Linked DNA regions of Homo sapiens: region 2 is linked to region 1. Evidence: fine-mapped expression QTL. A gene starts in region 1. The other region holds a variant in brackets. All regions are shown on one strand. Distances are between the middles of the regions.

Evidence for each region. PIP is the estimated chance that this variant, and not a neighbour inherited with it, causes the effect.
Region 2: its variant is the best candidate, but not a certain one, in a credible set for the expression of CALCRL-AS1 in lung (GTEx, PIP 0.85).

What each region holds. Positions count from the first base shown.
Region 1 is chr2:187,001,698-187,004,476 of GRCh38, reverse strand. CALCRL-AS1 (CALCRL and TFPI antisense RNA 1) reads right to left here and starts at 1,204. Exons shown (of 6, transcript NR_187179.1): 1 at 1,112-1,204. It also overlaps the pseudogene IMPDH1P7.
Region 2 is chr2:187,556,519-187,559,297 of GRCh38, reverse strand. No RefSeq gene overlaps it. Among named protein-coding and RNA genes, the nearest start is that of TFPI, 3.5 kb to the right of the region's middle. RefSeq lists enhancers at 654-1,236, 1,237-1,821. The variant A/G (reference allele first, on the strand shown) is at 1,535.

The DNA of each region.
Region 1 (2,779 bases):
TGTTTTGTCCTAGTACAGACATTTAAGGTTAACATTTTTCCTGTGAGTATACTTTTTGTTGTAGTCTATCAGTTGTGCTTCTCTTGTTTTTCAGATCTAAATAGTTTATAAATTGCAATCTGATTTCTGCTTTAAGCTATAAAATATTCGGAAAAGCACATTTTGGCATTCTTTACTAATTTTATTGCAATGTTTTCAGAGAACATGTTTTGTGTGTTACCAACTCTTAGAGACTTTCTTTGTGGCCAAGTACATGAACAATTTAAAAATATATCCTATGGATGGACTTCAGGTGCCAGCCAAGATGAAGTAAGCCTGCTAGAATCTTTCTCTTTCACTCATTACAATTAAAAATTCAGGACAAAATACTAAAACACTTACCTGAGGATGATTCCGAAACAAAATAATAGCAAGGAGGTTGAGGAGCGACATCAAAACTCAAAAAATGACCAGTATGCCAATAGTGAGTTTCCTAGGATATTTTCCTTCAAGATCATCTGGTCTTGGCTTAAGGATGGGCCAAATCAGGGAACAATGTGATGGGAACAGACAGCAAAAACTTTGAGAAAACCCTGGTTTTCTGTCAGAGTACTAAGAAACTGGGACCCTGAGAGGTGGAAAGTGGAGGTTGAAGGTGAAATCCCAATGTGTTTTTCTCTCCCTCTGCCCCAAGGCCAGCTTCATTGACCAGCTTCAGTGCATGTAGAGGCAGCAGCATGAATGTAAGCCCTAGAAATCCATCTTTCTGGACAGAGGAACCAGGAAAATGGGCCTCTAGGGGCCTCTGTGTGTAAAGACTGTGGAAGGAATTCCCATTTTTATTTTCAGTCTTTTCTTTCATTACTTCATCCCCCGGGTATATCCAATAACACAGAACTGTGCAACTGTGTGGAAAACTTAGAAGACTCCTGGCCAGAGGGACTGGGAAAAGAGGACCCTGAGAGACAGACTCTGAGAGAGAAAATTATTTAAAAAGAAAAAAAAAAAGAGAGAGAGAGAGAGAAGCGGCCCCGCCCGGCTCGCAGCGGCAGCATGGCCGCAGCGCGGGGGCAGCAGCAGCAGGCGGCTGCGCGCGGATGTCGCAGGGTTTCGCGGCAGCATGACGGACTACCTGATCAGGGGCGGCACCGACTATGTGCCCGATAACTGGCTCCCCGCGCAGCAGCTCTTTGCCAGCGCCGACTGCCTCACCTACGACGACTTCCTGATTCTCCCAGGATTCACAGACTTCATAGCTGATGAGGCGGACCTGACCTCAGCCCTGACCCGGAAGATCACGCTGAAGACTCCGCTCATTTCCTCCCCCACGGACACTGTGACAGGCCGACATAGCCATTGCAATGGCTCTGATGGGAGGTATTGGTTTCATTCACCACAACTGCACCCCAGAGTTCCAGGCCAAGGAGGTGCGGAAGGTCAAGAAGTTTGAACAGGGCTTCATCACGGACCCGGTGGTGCTGACCCCCTCGCACACTGTGGGTGATGTGTTGGAGGCCAAGATGCGGCATGGCTTCTCTGGCATCCCCATCACTGAGACGGGCACCATAGGCAGCAAGCTGGTGGGCATCGTCACCTCCAGAGACATCAACTTTCTTGCTGAGGAGGACCACACCACCCTCCTCAGTGTTGGCTCCAGCAGGCCTGATGTTGAAAGAGGCAAATGAGATCCTGCAGCATAGCAAGAAAGGGAAGCTGTCTTTCGTCAATGATCCGATGAGCTGGTGGCCATGATCACCTGCACCGACCTGAAGAAGAACAGAGACTACCCTCTGGCCTCCAAGGATTCCCACAAGCAGCTACTGCGTGGGGCAGCTGTGGGCACCCCTGAGGATGACAAATACCGCCTGGACTTGCTCACCCAGGCGGGGGTAGACGTCGTAGTCTTGGACTTGTCCCAAGGGAACTCGGTGTATCAGATTGCCACGGTGCATTACATCAAACAGAAGTACCCCCACCTCCAGGTGATTGGGATGACAGCCGCCCAGGCCAAAAACCTGATTGACGCTGCGGTGGACGGGCTGCGCATAGGTATGGGCTGCGGCTCCATCTGCATCACCCAGGAAGTGATGGCCTGCGGTGGGCCCCAGGGCACTGCATTGTACAAGGTGGCCGAGTATGCCCTGTGCTTTGGTGTGTCCATCATAGCCGATGGCGGCATCTAGACCGTGGGGCACGTGGTTAAGGCCCTGGCCCTTGGAGCCTCCACAGTGATGATGGGCTCCCTGCTGGCCACCACCACGTAGGACCCCGGCGAGTATTTCTTCTCAGATGGGGTGCGGCTCAAGAAGTACCAGGGCATGGGCTCACTGGATGCCATGGAGAAGAGCAGCAGCAGCCAGAAATGATACGTCAGCAAGGGGAATAAGGTGAAGATCGCGCAGGGTGTCTTGGGCTCCATCCAGGACAAAGGATCCATTCATAAGTTCGTGTCCTACCTCATAGCGGGCATCCAGCCTGGCTGCCAGGATATTGGGCCGCAGCCTGTCTGTCCTTCAGTCCATGATGTACTCAGGAGAACTGAATTTTGAGAAGCAAACCATGTCGGCCCAGATCAAGGGTGGCGTCCATGGCCTGCACTCTTAGGAGAAGCGGCTGTACTGAGGACAGCAGTGGAGGCCAAGGTGGTGGAAGGGGCATACCGCAGTGTCCACTTTCAGGCACAGCCTCCCTCCATAACTGAGTGGTCCACAGACTTGCACTATAGGTTCCCCAGCTCCTTTCCAGGGAGAAAGGAGGGGAAGTTCTGAGGGGTCTGCAGCCTCTTGCTGGGCATCGCCTG
Region 2 (2,779 bases), 550 kb before region 1:
GGTCTCTTCTTCCTCTGTGGATCCTCTACCTACATGTGTCTACCTGCTAATTGGACAGGCACATGTACACTAGTCTTCCTTACCCCCAAAATTCAATTTGCAAATGGGACCGAAGAGCTCCCTGTTCCCCTCATGACACCGACACGACAAAAAAGAGTTATTCCACTAATTCCCTTGATGGTCGGTTTAGGACTTTCTGCCTCCACTATTGCTCTCGGTACTGGAATAGCAGGCATTTCAACCTCTGTCACGACCTTCCGTAGCCTGTCTCATGACTTCTCTGCTAGCATCACACACATATCACAAACTTTATCAGTCCTCCAGGCCCAAGTTGACTCTTTAGCTGCAGTTGTCCTCCAGAACCGCCAAGGCCTTGACTTACTCACTGCTGAAAAAGGAGGACTGCATATTCATAAATGAGGAGTGTTGTTTTTACCTAAATCAATCTGGCCTGGTGTATGACAACATAAAAAAACTCAAGGATAGAGCCCCAAAACTTGCCAACCAAGCAAGTAATTACGCTGAACCCCCTTGGGCACTCTCTAATTGGATGTCCTGGGTCCTCCCAATTCTTAGTCCTTTAATACCCATTTTTCTCCTTCTTTTATTCAGACCTTGTATCTTCCATTTAGTTTCTCAATTCATCCAAAACCGTATCCAGGCCATCACCAATCATTCTATACGACAAATGTTTCTTCTAACATCCCCACAATATCACCCCTTACCACAAGACCTCCCTTCAGCTTAATCTCTCCCACTCTAGGTTCCCACGCCGCCCCTAATCCCGCTTGAAGCAGCCCTGATAAACATCACCCATTCTCTCGCCATATCACCCCCCAAAAATTTTCACTGCCCCAACACTTCAACACTATTTTGTTTTATTTTTCTTATTAATATAAGAAGGCAGGAGTGTCAGGCCTCTGAGCCCAAGCCAAGCCATGCATCCCCTGTGACCTGCACGTATATGCCCAGATGGCCTGAAGTAACTGAAGAATCACAAAAGAAGTGAATATGCCCTGCACCACCTTAATGATGACATTCCACCACAAAAGAAGTGTAAATGGCCGGTCCTTGCCTTAACTGATGACATTACCTTGTGAAACTCCTTTTCCTGGCTCATCCTGGCTCAAAGCACCCCCACTGAGCACCTTGCGGCCCCCACTCCTGCCCGCCAGAGAACAAACCCCCTTTGACTGTAATTTTCCTTTACCTACCCAAATCCTATAAAACAGCCCCACCCTTATCTCCCTTGGCTGACTCTCTTTTCGGACTCAGCCCGCCTGCACCCAGGTGAAATAAACAGCCATGCTGCTCACACAAAGCCTGTTTGGTGGTCTCTTCACACGGATGCGCATGAAACTTTATTTATTTTATTTTATTTTATTTTATTTTATTTTTTTATTGATCATTCTTGGGTGTTTCTCGCAGAGGGGGATTTGGCAGGGTCATAGGACAATAGTGGAGGGAAGGTCAGCAGATAAACAAGTGAACAAAGGTCTCTGGTTTTCCTAGGCAGAGGACCCTGCGGCCTTCC[A/G]CAGTGTTTGTGTCCCTGGTTACTTGAGATTAGGGAGTGGTGATGACTCTCAACGAGCATGCTGCCTTCAAGCATCTGTTTAACAAAGCACATCTTGCACCGCCCTTAATCCATTTAGCCCTGAGTGGACACAGCACATGTTTCAGAGAGCACGGGGTTGGGGGTAAGGTCACAGATCAACAGGATAAGAATTTTTCTTAGTACAGAACAAAATGAAAAGTCTCCCATGTCTACCTCTTTCTACACAGACACGGCAACCATCCGATTTCTCAATCTTTTCCCCACCTTTCCCCGCTTTCTATTCCACAAAACCGCCATTGTCATCATGGCCCGTTCTCAATGAGCTGTTGGGTACACCTCCCAGACGGGGTGGTGGCCGGGCAGAGGGGCTCCTCACTTCCCAGTAGGGGCGGCCGGGCAGAGGCGCCCCTCACCTCCCGGACGGGGCGGCTGGCCGGGCAGGGGGCTGACCCCCCCACCTCACTCCCGGATGGGGCGGCTGGCCGGGCAGAGGGGCTCCTCACTTCCCAGTAGGGGCGGCCGGGCAGAGGCACCCCTCACCTCCCGGACGGGGTGGCTGGCCCGGCGGGGGGCTGATCCCCCCACCTCCCTCCCAGACGGGGCGGCTTGCCAGGCAGGGGGCTGACCCCCCCACCTCCCTCCCGGACCGGGCGGCTGGCCGGGCAGAGGGGCTCCTCACTTCCCAGTAGGGGCGGCCGGGCAGAGGCACCCCTCACCTCCCGGACGGGGCGGCTGGCCGGGCGGGGGGCTGACCCCCCCACCTCCCTCCCGGACTGGGCGGCTGGCCGGGCGGGGGGCTGATCCCCCCACCTCCCTCCCGGACGGGGTGGCTGCTGGGCGGAGACGCTCCTCACTTCCCAGACGGGGCGGCTGGCCGGGCAGAGGGGCTCCTCACTTCCCAGTAGGGGCCGCCGGGCAGAGGCGCCCCTCACCTCCCGGACGGGGCGGCTGGCCGGGCGGGGGGCTGACCCCCCACCTCCCTCCCAGACGGGGTGGCTGCTGGGCAGAGACGCTCCTCACTTCCCAGACAGGGTGGCTGCTGGGCAGAGGGGCTCCTCACTTCTCAGATGGGGCGGCTGCCGGGCGGAGGGTCTCCTCACTTCCCAGACGGGGCCGCCGGGCAGAGACGCTCCTCACCTCCCAGACGGGGTCGCGGCGGGGTAGAGGCGCTCCTCACATCCCAGACGGGGCGGCGGGGCAGAGGCGCTCCCCACATCTCAGACG